Linked DNA regions of Homo sapiens. The protein of the gene in region 2 purifies or fractionates together with the protein of the main gene of each other region. This does not show direct contact. Each region holds a gene or a part of one and is shown on either strand. Other genes may lie near its edges. The genes, in order: XPNPEP3 and CHGA.

Region 1 (3,092 bases), on a different chromosome or scaffold from region 2:
AGAAATAACCATAAAAATGGGCAACCAGCAGCCCTTGGGGCTGCTCTGCCTATGGAGTAGCCATTCTTTATTCCTTTACTTTCTTAATAAACTTGCTTTTACTTTACTCTGTGGATTCCACTGAAATTCTTTCTTGCACGAGATCCAAGAACCATCTCTTGGGGTCTGGATTGGGACCCCTTTCCGGTAACAGCAGGTTCTCAGTATCTGTTTGTGGAATGCCTAGAACCTAAACTCTTTAAGTCCTAGTCCGAGAAATGCAGTAGAGTGGAATGAGAACTTGAAATTAGACTCAAGTTTAAAAATCAGATTTTTCACTAACAAGCTATGTAGCCTTAGACAAATTACTTTCTCTCTCAGAACGTCTGTTTTCTTATGGGCATAAAATATTTATTTTGCTAGAGTGCTGTGTCAGTTAAATGAGCACTTGCTACAGTGTGACTCAGAGGGTACTCAAATAATTTTCGACATTATTGGTTATTATTTCCAGTGGTAGGCAAATTATAATCATGGGTAAGCCACACATAAGTACATGTAAGCACATACACTGGAGAGAATTTAAATTGAGTTTTAAGCATTTCACAATACCTCTAAAAAATGAGTATATATAAAAATGCAAAGCAAAAAAATATTCAGACCTGACAAATGGTCTTGAAAGACTAGAAGCATACACTACAGTTTTAGATTTCATTAGCGTATCATTTAACTGAGGGGTTATAAATGTGATGGAAAATAAAATAAACACAACATAGAGGAGGAAAAACAAAGATTACAGGGAATTTTCTCAGACAATAAAATGAGCCAGGTATAGAATATAAGACCTTTAAATTCGGGTCTAGACTACTGGTAGTTTATCCCCAAAGAAAATCACCTTTGGTCTGTTTCTAATTTGGCTCTCGAATTCTACTTTCCCATACATGACTGAATTTCCAAATAGTAGCCACTGATCCATTACAAATGTAAATCACATCATTAAACTTGCATATTCCCCACTCCCCACAAAGGCTTCCCACTGTACTTGAAATAAGTGCTAGCTTTATGTCCAACAGCCCCAACTGGCAACAACCAAAATGTCCATCAACATGGCCAGTGGCTACCATATTAGATCACTATGTGGCTGACTGTCATATAGGTCTCAGCAATAATGTCATCTCCTCAGAAGCCTTCTAAAACCAATCTAAAGTAGCGCTCTGCCCCCAGCACATTGCTATTTTTTTTGGAGCACATATCGCATTATCTTAAATTATTTTATTTGTTCTCCTATTTGTATTCTATTATAATGCAAGCACCAGGAAAACTGGTGTCTTTTGTTCAATACTGCTATCACCAGTGGCTAAAACGGTGCCTGGCACAAAGTAGACAATCAATAATTATACAGTGAATACATAAACACACAACTTTCCAAATCTTTAATTACATGTTTTACAGCAGTAAACCTTGGGTGGACAAAGATACTATAATCTCAAATGACTTACCACTGGCATGCAGAAAGTTAACATATCAGGCTACTTCCTCCAAGAGGCTTTCATTGACACCCCCAGCCTGAGCTGTCTCTCATATAATTGTTTAGCATCCAGTACTTCCTCTCATCATAACTATTATATTGTAACTAAGTTACTTGTTTGTATCTCCCTCTGAACTGTTTCTTGACTGAAATAAATATGTCAACTGTTTGAATACTTTCTTCACCCGTAAGTCAGTACTTCATTTTTCTAAACCAAAGCATAGAAGAGCTGGGAAGCAATTAAGGCGCAGTAATCTAGAGGTCATATTATGCAAGGGATATGCTGTGGCTATTAGCAACAGATTCCATTGGCTTATGAGGCACTGCCTGAAGCTTCCAGGGAAACATACAGGGGAAACAGTCCAGAGGATTCAGGATGGTCTGGTACGACTCTGGACTAGCTCTATTTGGAAGGTCCAGTCCCTACACTGACCCCAGAATGACACCATAATGCAGCCCTCTCTGACATATTTGTAACTCTGCTTGCCACATAATCAGTATCCTCATCTCTTAGCACATGGTAATAACATTGTCTTTAACATAAAAGTGTACCTATTTGCAGTCACTACCTCTATCACCACCACCAGCAGAGCCTGAGCTGAGGAAACCACGGTTCTCAATACCCAGCACACCCACTTCCAACTATCTGTTAAAACATGGTGGATTACTATGAAGTTCTAGGACTGCAAAGATATGCTTCACCTGAGGACATTAAAAAAGCTTATCATAAAGTGGCACTTAAATGGCACCCTGATAAAAATCCAGAAAATAAAGAAGAAGCAGAGAGAAAATTCAAAGAAGTAGCTGAGGCATACGAGGTATTATCAAATGATGAGAAACGGGACATTTATGATAAATATGGCACAGAAGGATTAAACGGAGGTGGAAGTCATTTTGATGATGAATGTGAGTACGGCTTCACATTCCATAAGCCAGATGATGTTTTTAAAGAAATTTTTCATGAAAGGGATCCATTTTCTTTTCACTTCTTTGAAGACTCGCTTGAGGACCTGTTAAATCGTCCAGGAAGCTCCTATGGAAACAGAAACAGAGATGCAGGATACTTTTTCTCCACTGCCAGTGAATATCCAATTTTTGAGAAATTTTCTTCATATGATACAGGATATACATCACAGGGTTCATTGGGGCATGAAGGCCTTACTTCTTTCTCTTCCCTGGCTTTTGATAATAGTGGGATGGACAACTACATATCTGTTACAACTTCAGACAAAATCGTTAATGGCAGAAATATTAATACAAAGAAAATTATTGAAAGTGATCAAGAAAGAGAAGCTGAAGATAATGGAGAGTTGACATTTTTTCTTGTAAATAGTGTGGCCAATGAAGAGGGCTTTGCAAAAGAATGCAGCTGGAGAACACAGTCATTCAACAACTATTCACCAAATTCTCACAGCTCCAAACATGTATCTCAATATACTTTCGTGGACAATGATGAGGGAGGTATATCTTGGGTTACCAGCAACAGAGATCCCCCTATTTTCTCAGCAGGAGTCAAAGAGGGTGGTAAGAGGAAAAAAAAGAAGCGTAAAGAGGTGCAAAAGAAGTCTACCAAAAGGAATTGTTAAAT
Region 2 (3,600 bases):
AACTGCTGGGATTACAGGTGTAAACCACTGCGCCCAGCTGACCCACCCTATTTAAGTATAACCCCACCCTGTCTCAGCACAGCCGTCCCCTTCCGTGCTGACAAACTGTGGGTGTTACTTCTTATTCATTGTCTGTCTTCACCATCTAGAATGTAGGGCTTCTGTCTGTTCTGTTTAATGCTGTACCCTCAACTGTGTACTGTTCTAGGATGTTCTAAGCACATAGTAGGTGCTTAGCAAAGCAAATATGTAAATTCATGAATGTGGCCATTTCAGTCTCCTTTGAGCTCCCACCAGGTTCTCATTTAGGGACAGGCGTGAGCACAGGTGTGGGAAAGGAAGTATTAGTAGAAAACAGCAGCCGCAGATGGAGAGGGGTGGGCAGGAAGGAGGGGCTCTGGACGATGCCAGCCAATGACAAACCGTCACCCAGATCCCAGGTTCCCTGTGACAGTGGGGTCAGGTGGCAAAGAGCTTCCAACACGGCCCCCAGAGCTGGAGCCCAAAGAGCTGGAGCATCAGGGGCCCCAGAAATAAGGGAAGCCAACCAGGAAACTGACCTTTTACACAAAATATCCAGGTTTTGAGAATGCTCAGGAAGAGGTGAGAGCTGTTCTCAAATTCAGATGGGCTGCCAGTGGCAAGAAGGTGATGCTAAGGGGTTGCACTAGGGCTAATGGGTAGGTGTTGCAAGGACTCCTATTTTGGCGGATGTAATAAGAACTGGCCCCCACTCCTCCCTCTACCTAACAAGAGGTGTCCAACAGTGGCTTAAGCTTCCTGGTGAAAGTGAGCCCCTGGTTCCCGTGTGTATGCAGAGCCCAGGATTCACTCACCCATGGCTTGAACCTTTAATGGATACATTCATCAGTTACCTGTCAAGTGCGTTTCCTCTGTGCCAGATTGTGTGGCGCTCAGCACTGTGAAAGTAATGATGACTAAACATTATTCAAATAAATACACATTCAACAACAAAGTGTGAAGGCACAAAACTAGCTTGCCAGAGAGAGAGAAGCCTCACTCAGACAGGGGATCAAAGGCCCCTCTAGAGCCTCCTAGATATTGGAGAGAGCCATGAGTGATGGGCATGCCTCCAGCCTGTGAGACCGGGGGAGCATACCCCAGGCAGAGGGCACTTAGGAAAAATAGCACGGGGTGCTAGCGCTGCCAGGGACCTCAGTACACATGGAAGAAGGCAAGGTCCAGAGATCCGAGTGACTTGCCCAGGGACACAAGGCAAATCGGTGGAATCGTCGAGGGGTGGAGGATCAGCCACAGCCCCCCGCCTCCCACGCCACCTCTTGGAAACCAGATACCCGCCTCGCGGCCAAGACCCACCAGCTCCAAGCGGCGGAGGCCAGAGGTAGCGAGGGGTGAGGTTAGAGGTGGGGGCGAGCGGGGACTGGACACCTGGGGAGTGGGGAAAGGGGAAGGGGGCGGCACCGCTGACGTCATTTCCGGGGTCGGGGTATATAAGCGGGGCGCGAGGGCGCTGCTGCTGCCACCGCTCCTGCCACTGCAGTGCTCGAGCCCCGTGCAGGGGAGCTTGCGGGAGGATCGACCGACAGACGGACGCACGCCGAGGCACTGCGCCCCCAGCCCCGCGCCGGTGCCACCGCAGCCCGACCCCGGCCGCCAGTCCAGCCGCCCCTCGCCCGGTGCCTAGGTGCCCGGCCCCACACCGCCAGCTGCTCGGCGCCCGGGTCCGCCATGCGCTCCGCCGCTGTCCTGGCTCTTCTGCTCTGCGCCGGGCAAGGTGAGCGAGCGCGGGGAGCTCGCGGGAGAGGGTTCCGGGCGCCCCTGCCCACCTTGAGGTCCGGGCACCGCGCGGCGCCCCGCACCCCTCCACACTTCCCTTCGGGCGCGGCGAGTTTTCAGCACCGCGGACAGCGCCTCCGCCTCCCGCCTGACCCTGCAGTGTGGCCTCCGCCTGGGACCCACAAGACACTTGGGCCTGACTCCCAACCCCCCGGGGCAACTCCCCCTTGTGCCCACCCCTTGTCTGGGCTTGGCGCCTCGGTTGCATCAGGGCCAGTGCCGGTTGCGCGGTGGCCGGCCAAGGTCACTGCGGGGAGGTGGGAGCATGGCTGCTCGCAACCCTCCACCCCTCTTCCCCTTTCATCTCACGCTCCCCGCCTTTCTGCCCTTGACTTCTACTTCTCCATATCATCCCTCACAATCCCCTTCCTCCATCTCTTCCCCCGCCCCCCCCACCTCTGGGGTCTCTCTCCCCTTCGTCTGTCTCCCACCCGTCCCACTGTGCAGCTCTTGGCCTTGTTTGATGGCGCTCCCCGCTCCAAAGCACACCCGCTCCAGAGCAAGAGTTTCCAAAGGGGGAGGGGGAGGACCTCTCAGTGCAGCCTCTGGGGACCACCCCACTGTGGGCAGCAACCAGGGAAGGGAAACAAAATCAGCCCTAGCCTCTCTTTTTGGTGGGGGCAGTTTTGAGGGGTGGCATTGGGTGAACGGGCCCCAGTGAGCCCGGTCAGAAAGGACTGGCCTCCACTTGGAGCAGAGGAGTGACCCCAGCACTCTCTTCTTCTTCCCAGTCACTGCGCTCCCTGTGAACAGCCCTATGAATAAAGGGGATACCGAGGTAAGAAGGGGTGCTGGGGATGAGGGGTAGGAGGCTCCAGTGGACACTTCACAGCCAGTTCTTGGGCAGCTGCAGGAGTAAGTTCGGCATAAAGCCAAGAGCCAGCACTGCGGCTGCTGAGCCTGGGGACAGCTTGCAAAAGAAGATATCAAAGATTGCTTGCTTTCCCTGCTGTCCTGCTGTGGGGACTTCCCCAGCTTCCTCTGAGCTGCACATGCAGCGGAAGAGGCCTGCATCTTACCTGCTGGGCCGAGGTGCCTGGCTTCAGGCTGTCTTGAACACTCTGAATCCAGTAGGCTCCCCAGGGGCTGGTGGGGGTGGCTTCTCTGTAGTTGTAGTTGTCCACAGACCTGTAAAAATGGCCTTTGCCTGCCTGGCTCTGGCCTCCCCGCTTTGCTCTTTCTCCCTGAAAGGCTCTGCCAGTAACAACCCACACCCAGCAGGCTCTCCAGCCCTGGCTGTCCCAAAGGAACACAAGCAAAACATCTTGATCATGGCTCCTGCACCCACGGTCCCACCAATAGGGGCTAGTTGTGGAGGTCACCCAGGAAAGGGCCTTAGGAGACACTAGTAGGGGTTTCTCTGGCAGCAAGAGACACACCACGCTGGGTGTGTACTTGGAATTCATTCATGGCTGAGCTGGGGCTGTTTTTTCCAGGCTCTAGTGCTCATCCAAATCTCTGACTTGAGGGTCAGAGAAATTTCTACTCCCCACCTTCCCAGAAACTATTCTCTTCCACTAGACACCACAGTTAAAATCCAAACCATCCAAGAGATTCCAACCTCTGTTTGCTCAATTATATTTCCTATGTTTTAGTTGCAGATAGGACAGAATTTAAACCTCTACCACTCATTCTAGCTGTGTGACCTTGGGAAAATTCCTTAATTTCTCTGAGCTCCGCCTTTTTCTCCTTTTCCTTGAGGGGAGGTGTAAAGAGTAGGAATCATGGATGTGAATTGCCTAGCACATAATAGGTCCTCAGTAAATGGGCACTTTTATTCCT

What was found.
Region 1: the proteins of CHGA (region 2) and XPNPEP3 purify together in Homo sapiens (affinity purification with mass spectrometry; one large-scale study listed by BioGRID and IntAct). This does not show direct contact.

What each region holds. Positions count from the first base shown.
Region 1 is NC_000022.11:40,861,063-40,864,154, reverse strand, and holds part of XPNPEP3 (xaa-Pro aminopeptidase 3), read right to left. Parts: exon of another isoform or gene 3,091-3,092; coding exon of another isoform or gene 2,161-3,090; exon of another isoform or gene 1,383-2,160; intron 1-1,382. Other genes in the region: DNAJB7 (dnaJ homolog subfamily B member 7), read left to right, coding at 2,161-3,090. UniProt on the Homo sapiens protein: Catalyzes the removal of a penultimate prolyl residue from the N-termini of peptides, such as Leu-Pro-Ala. Also shows low activity towards peptides with Ala or Ser at the P1 position.
Region 2 is NC_000014.9:92,921,650-92,925,249, forward strand, and holds the start of CHGA (chromogranin-A isoform 1 preproprotein), read left to right. Parts: upstream 1-1,500; 5' UTR 1,501-1,710; coding exon 1,711-1,756; intron 1,757-2,549; coding exon 2,550-2,596; intron 2,597-3,600.